Homo sapiens: one gene and its partner. The protein of the gene in region 2 purifies or fractionates together with the protein of the main gene of each other region. This does not show direct contact. Each region holds a gene or a part of one and is shown on either strand. Other genes may lie near its edges.

Evidence for each region. The genes of interacting proteins can lie anywhere in the genome.
Region 1: the proteins of KLC1 (region 2) and GEMIN5 fractionate together in Homo sapiens (co-fractionation; one large-scale study listed by BioGRID). This does not show direct contact.

Annotation. Positions count from the first base shown.
Region 1 is NC_000005.10:154,893,014-154,896,764, reverse strand, and holds part of GEMIN5 (gem-associated protein 5), read left to right. Parts: intron 1-421; coding exon 422-673; intron 674-3,751. UniProt on the Homo sapiens protein: The SMN complex catalyzes the assembly of small nuclear ribonucleoproteins (snRNPs), the building blocks of the spliceosome, and thereby plays an important role in the splicing of cellular pre-mRNAs.
Region 2 is NC_000014.9:103,635,616-103,639,366, forward strand, and holds part of KLC1 (kinesin light chain 1), read left to right. Parts: intron 1-3,751. UniProt on the Homo sapiens protein: Kinesin is a microtubule-associated force-producing protein that may play a role in organelle transport. The light chain may function in coupling of cargo to the heavy chain or in the modulation of its ATPase activity.

The sequences.
Region 1 (3,751 bases), on a different chromosome or scaffold from region 2:
TTGTCTATTCCAGCACCTTTGGCCCATTATGCTTTTATTCCTGAGTCCAAAGTTTGGTCAGGGAGAAAGAACCTGATGAGCCCAGCCCTTCTTTTCCTCAAACTAGGCTACAAGGCTTAAGTGGCTGGTCTGTGTGTGGCTTAAATCATTGTGGGTAGTGCTACAGTTGGGATTCTGTGTTATAAAAATGGTTTCTTGAGCTCTAAGGATAGATTTCCCCCAAAAGGGACCTGGGAAGTGTCTGTCAGATCGCCCCTTTTGTCTCTTTTCATGCATGACTCATATGGGGCAGGTAGCTCACTAATGTGCTTTGGTTGCTGCAGATACAAAGGGAAATACTTTGAAGGACACGGGAGAGCTCTCGAGATCATCCAGTGCTTTCCCTGTATAACAGTTCCTCTTCCTTGTTGTCGTGTTCCAGGGTCAGAGATTGGTGTTTTGCCTTCTGGAGCTACTGTCCAGGCATCTGGAGGAAAAGCAGCTTTCAGAGGGCAAAAGCTCCTCCTCTTACCACACTTGGAACACGGGCACCGAAGGGCCTTTCGTGGAGAGGGTGACTGCAGTGTGGAAGAGCATCTTCAGCCTTGACACCCCTGAGCAGTATCAGGAAGCCTTTCAGAAGCTGCAGAACATCAAGTACCCATCTGCTACAAATAACACACCTGCCAAACAGGTAAGCCATCTGTACCAGCATTTGACATTAATCACTCAGTGGTAAGACTTCCTTAATCCATGTCTATTGTAACGGGGAAACAAGCAGAATACTGGACTGTGTTTCAGAAAAGGCTAAGGCATGGCCACGCCACCTGGAAAGATCCCTTTAGACTAATCAAAGCCCTTTAACTTTAAAGTTAGTATTAGATCAGTATTCCCTTTTTTGTTTTGTTTTTTTTAGTTGTTTGAAGCTGGAGTGCAGTGGCATGATCTTGGCTCACTGCAGCCGCCACCTCCCAGATTCAAGTGATTCTCCCGCCTCAGACTCCTAAGAGCTGTGATTACAGGCGTGCGCCACCACGCCCAGCCACTATTTCCTTTTCTAAAAAAGTAAAATAAAAAGTCTAGAAAATATAGAAAAGCAGAATAATGTAATAACCCATCAACCAGAATTAACAGATGTTCACATTTTGTCATTTTTACTTTGTAGGGTTTTCTGGTTTCATTTTGTATTTTGATTTGAGGACTTTATAAAATAAAAACAGTAGGGCAAAGTTGAAGTCCTTCTTGTTCCTTTCCTCAGCCCTTCACTCCTTCCCTAGCTCGCCACAGGCACCTCCTGTGTCAGTGCCACATGTATTGTTTTGCTGTTTGCTTATTTCAGAGGCCATTGTTTGTAAAATCTATCCATGTTGATAAAAAGAGATCAGTTGATTTATTTTAACTGCTATGTCTGCCTTGTGAATATACCTACTTCTTTTTTTTTTTTTTTTTCCTTTCTGGAGACTGGGTCTCACTGTTACCCAGGCTGGTCTCGAATTCCTCAAGTGATCCTCCCGCCTCAGCCTCCCAAAGTACTGGGATTACAGGCATGAGCCACTGTGCCTGGCGTAGTTCTTTCCCTCATTTCAAAATGAGGGAACATTATGATATTTATGAGGAACAAGGCTTCTCAAATGGTATATACTTTGAAAAACAATTGGACAGTTTCTTTTTTTCTTTTCTTTTTTCCTTTTCTTTTCTTTCTTTTTGAGGCGGAATTTCACTCTTGTTGCTCAGGCTGGAGTACAGTGGCATGATATCTGCTCACTGCAACCTCCGCCTCCCAGGTTCAAGCAATTCTCCTGCCTCAGCCTTCCAAGTAGCTGGGATTACAGGCATGTGCCACCACGCCCAGCTAATATTTTTACTTTTTTTTTTTTTTTAGATGGAGTCTCACTCTGTCACCCGGGCTGGAGTACAGTGGCATGATCTTGGCTCACTGCAATCTCCGCCTCCCAGGTTCAAGCAATTCTCTTGCCTCAGCCTCCCGGGTAGCTGGGATTACAGGCACCTGCCACCATGCCCGGCTAATTTTTTGTATTTTTAGTAGAGACAGGGGTTTCACCATGTTGGCCAGGCTGGTCTCGAACTCCTGACCTCGTGATTTGCCCACTTCGGCCTCCCAAAGTGCTGGGATTATAGGCATGAGCCACTGCAGCCAGCCTATTTTTCAGATTTTTAGTAGAGACAGGGTTTCACCATGTTGGCCAGGCTGGTCTTGAACTTCTGACCTCATGTGATCCACCTGCCTCGGCCTCCCAAAGTGCTGTGATTACAAGTGTGAGCCATCACGCCTGGCCAGGCAGTTTCTTATAAAGTTAAACATGCACATGCCCCATGTCTCAGCAGTTCTGCTACCTAGATATTCCACTAAAACAATGAAATCAGATGGCCACACAAAGACTTGTACACAAATGTTTACAGCAGCTTAGTGCACAGTAGCCAAAAACTAGAAACAACCCAAATGTCCATCAACTGATGAATGGATATGCAAACTGTGTTGTGTCTATGCAGTGAAATACTATACTGTTTAACAATAAAAAGGGCCAGTCTTGGTGGCTCACACCTGTAATCCCAGCACTTTGGGAGGCCAACGCGGGTGGATCGCTTGAGCTCAGGAGTTTGAGACCAGCCTGGGCAACATGGCAAAAACCTGTCTCTAGTAAAAATACAAAAATTAGCCGGGTGTGGTAGCACAAGCCTGTAATCCCAGGTACTAGGGTGGCTAAGGCAGGAGAATCATTCAAATCTGGGAGACGGAGGCTGCAGTGAGCCAAGATGGAACCACTGCACTACAGCCTGGGTAAGAGAATGAGACCCTGTCTCAAAAAAAGAAAGTAAAAAGGAACAAATTACTGCCACACAAATAATATCGGTGTTAGCCGCGCGTGGTGGCGGGCTCCTGTAGTCCCAGCCACTCTGGAGGCTGAGGCAAGAGAATGGTGTGAACCCAGGAGGCCAAGCTTACAGTGAGCCGAGATCGTGCCACTGCACTCCAGCCTGGGCGACAGAGCAAGACTCCATCTCAAAAAAACAAAGAAGAAGAAGAAGAATATCGGTGAATCTCAAAAGCTTTAAAGACACAAAAGACTATATACTCTGTGGTTCCATTTATATGAATTCTAGAAAAGAAAAAATTAAAGTGACAACCAGTTCAGTGGTTGCCAGTGGGGTGGGGCCAGGAGATCGCCTGCAGAGGAGCCGGAGGGCATATCTTCAGTTGATGAAAATGTTCTGTCTTGATTTTGCTGGTAGTGTTGTAACTATATATGTTTCTCAAACTACATACTTAAAATTGAGCACATTTTTCTTAGTTGTACTCCAAGCTTTGTTTTGTTTTGTTTTTGGTGGGTTTTGATTTTTTTTTTTTGAGACAGCGTCTCACTCTGTCACCCAGGCTCGGGTGTAGTGGCTTACTGCAACCTCCGCCTCTCGGGTTCAAGCAATTCTTCCGCCTCAGCCTCCCAAGTAGCTGGGATTACAGGCGTGCACCACCAAGCCCGGCTAATTTTTTTTTTTTTTTTTTTTTTTTTAGAGACGGGCTTTCACCTCGGGTGATCCGCCCGCCTCAGCCTCCCAAAGTGATGGGGTTATAGGTGTGAGCAACTGCACCCAGCCTTTATTTTGTTTTTAATTACAGCTTTTAGTTCCAGAAACTCACTTTTTGTTTTTGTTGTTTGTTTGTTTGTTTTGAGAGGGAGTCTCACTCTCATGCTCAGACTGGAGTGCAGTGGCGCAATCTCAGCTCACCACAACCTCCACCTTCCGGGTTCAA
Region 2 (3,751 bases):
TGGTAGTATGCTTCTGTAGTCCCGGGTATTTGGGAAGCTGAGGTAGGAGAATCACTTGAACCCGGGAGGCGGAGGTTGCAGTGAGCCAGATCGAGCCACGGCACTCCAGCCTGGGCGACAGAGTGAGACTCCCATCTCAAAAAGAAAAAAAAAAAGTAAAATAGGTACTGTTACTGAGATTCTACTGTTGAGGAATTTGAGGGTGAGAGAGGGGAAGTTTCAGAAACCAAAGTTACACAGCTGTGAAGTCAAGATTCTAACTCAGTTTTTTTGCTTCGCGGTATAAGCTTTGAATCACCTTGCAGTACTTAAAGCTGCAGCTTCAAGTGAATCATGATAATGCTGTTTAATCCTATCATTACTTTTTCTTGGGGAAACCTCGCGCCACTTCAATTTTTTTCAAAGATGTACCATTTTAACCATTTAAAAGTTCACAATTCAGTAGTGTTAAGGATATGCACATCGTTGTTCCACATTTCTGGAACTCTTTCATCTGGCAGCGCTGAGACTGTAGCCCCCAAATACTGATATCTCCTCCTCCCTCGCCCTCCCCCGGTAACCATCTTTTCTACTTTGTTTCTATGATTTTGACTACTTTCAATACTTTATTTTTTATTTTTTTTGAGATGGAGTTTCACTCTTGTTGCCCAGGCTGGAGTGCAGTGGCACGATCTCAGCTCACTGCAACCTCTGCCTCCCGAGTTCAAACAATTCTCCTGCTTTAATTTCCTGAGTATCTGGGATTACAGTCATGGGCCACCATGCCGGGCTAATTTTGTATTTTTAGTAGAGATGGGTTTCTCCATGTTGGTCAGGCTGGTCTTGAACTCCTGACCTCAGGTGATCACCCCCCATCGGCCTCCCAAAGTGTTGGGATTACAGGCGTGAGCCACCGTGCCTGGCCTTGCCTGTCTTTTTCATCTGAGCCATTCTAGCGGGGTATAGTGGCATCTTGTTAGTTTTAATGTGCATTTCACTGATGACTCATAATGGTGAGCGCTTACATGCTTGTCGGTCTTTGTATGCCTGGATTTGTAAAGTGTCTGTTCAAGACTTTTGCCCATTTAAAAAATTGGATTGTTTGTATTTTTAAGTTCCTTACATATTTATTTATTTATTTATTTTTGAGATGGAGTCTCCTCTGTTGCCCAGGCTTGAGTGCAGTGGCGCGATCTCGGCTCACTGCAAGCTCTGCCTCCCGGGTTCACGCCATTCCCCTGCCTCAGCCTCTGGAGTAGCTGGGACTACAGGCGCCTGCCACCACGCCCAGCTAATTTTTTTTTTTGTTGTATTTTTATTAGATATGGGTTTCACCATGTTAGCCAGGATGGTCTCGATCTCCTGACCTCGTGATCCGCCCGTCTTGGCCTCCCAAAGTGCTGGTATTAACAGGCGTGAGCCACCACGCCCAGCAGTTCCTTACATGTTTTTTTTTTTTCAGATGGAGTCTTGCTCTTGCTCTATTGCCCAGGCTGACGTATTTTTTATACAAGCCGTTTGCCAGATATATATGTGTCGCAAATATTTTTTCCTAATCTATGGCTTAACTTTATTTTTTGGTAGTGCCTTTTAATAAATCAATACTTTTAATTTTTCTTAACCATGCTCTGGCAAGTTTTATTAAAGAAATTTTCGGCTGGGCGCGGTGGCTCACACCTATAATCCCAGCACTTTCGGAGGCCGAGGCGGGTGGATCATGAAGTCAGGAGTTTGAGACTACCCTGGCCAGTATGGTGAAACCCCGTCTCTACTAAAATTACAAAAATTCGCCAGGCGTGGTGGTGTGCACCTGTAGTCCCAGCTACTTGGGAGGCTGAGGCAGAAGAATCGCTTGATCCCGGGAGGCAGAGGTTGCAGTGAGTCGAGATTGCGACACTGCATTCCAGCCTGGGCAACAGAGTGAGACTCTGTTTCAAAAAAAAAAAAGAAATTTTCGCAGGGTTTATTTTTATCTTTTATTTTTTGTTGTTGCCTAAGCAACATCCGCTTTCCTTAATTCTGAAAGCATATCTATAAATAAGTCACCCAAAGGCCAAATAGATGCATTTGTTTTGTCTGGTTGTTAATGTTTTCTTTTTAAAAAAATATTTATGTATTTATTTAATTTTTGAGACAGGATCTTGCTCTGTTGCCTAGGTTGGAGTGCAGTGTCACAGTCGTGGCTCAGTGCAGCCTCGTGTTCAAGTGATCGTCCCACCTCAGCCCCTGAAGTAGCTGGGACTACATGTGCGCACCACCATGACCGGCTTGTTTTTTGTAGAGACAGGGTTTCATGGCATTGCCCTGGCTAGTCTTTAACTTCTGGGCTCAAATGATCTGCTCTCCTTGGCCTCCCAAAGTGCTGGGATTACAGACGTAAGCCACTATGCTGGGCCACCAAGATACTATTTATTTCCCTGAATATGACGTGGACTGTTCCTGTAGGCTGGTCCCTTCACCTCAGGACCCTCTTTGCTGGTATTGTTTGGGGCTTCTGCGCCTGTATATGGGGATGGGACCTGACCCTGCTGATCTGGCCAGCACTGCCAGGGTTTCCTGTTGCCCATCTCTCGGTAAAACATCCCTTATAAACCTTTGCAAGGAAAAAACCTCTGTTTTCTTCCCTCCATCCCATTTTTCCTTAATGTGCTACCCTCGTCTGTATTCATAGGAACTTTATTTAACACTTGAGAACTGAGAGTAATTGACATTTCTTTCTTGGCTGTCCTTCATTCTGTGCACCCAGACCTATTGCTTTTTCTACCACATTCTTTTTCTCTTTTAGAAAATTGAAATGTAAGTCACATCACATCAAATGCCCCATTTTAAAGCGTGCAGTGCAGTGATTTTTAATGTATTCTCTGTTTTGTGCAACTACCATCTATCTAATTCCACACATTCCTTTTCCCTTTTTAGTGCTTGGTGTTTTTTTTTTTTCTTAACTTTCTTCATCACTGTAAGCTTTCCCCACCTGGCTGAATTTCACATGATAAAACCAGGGGAGGTAAAGTGACCAAAGATGATGCCCTTTGCTTCTCTGGCCTTTGCTTTCATTTCATTAATTTTTTTTTTTTTTTTTTTTTTTGAGTCAGAGTCTCGCTCTGTCACCCAGGCTGGAGTCTGGGTGTATATGTATGAACACAGTGGGGTGTGTGGGTGTGTGTGAACATAGTGGTGTGTATGTATGAACACAGTGGGGGTGTGTGTGCGTGAGCACAGTGGTGTGTGTATGTATGAACATAGGGGTGTGTGTGAGCACAGTGGTGCATATGTATGAACATAGGGTGTATGTGTGTGAGCACAAGGGTGTGTGTGTGTGTGTGCGTGCATGCAGAGTGGTAGGGTTCCTGAAGCAGAGGGACACTTGGGGCAAAGAGACCTTGGATTGTGTTCTTCTTGTTGGTAGAATAAGCTTAAATCACTTCATGTATCCCAGTTTCCTCAGCTGTAAATGGGAATTATAATGATAGGTCATCAAACTACCTGCAGACTTTTTTTGTTGTTATTTCGATAAAATATTACACATTTGAAAATGCTCCCAAAACTAACATATTGGACAGATGCGAATTCTTCTTTCCTTTTTTTTGAGATGGAGTCTTGCTCTGTTGTCCAGGCTGGAGTACAGTGGCATGATCTTGGCTCATTGCAGCCTCAGCCTCCCAAGTAGCTGGAACTACAGGCATGTGCCACCACGCCTAGCTAATTTTTATATTTTTAGTAGAGATGGGGTTTCACCATGTTGGCCAGGCTGGTCTTGAACTCCTGACCTCAA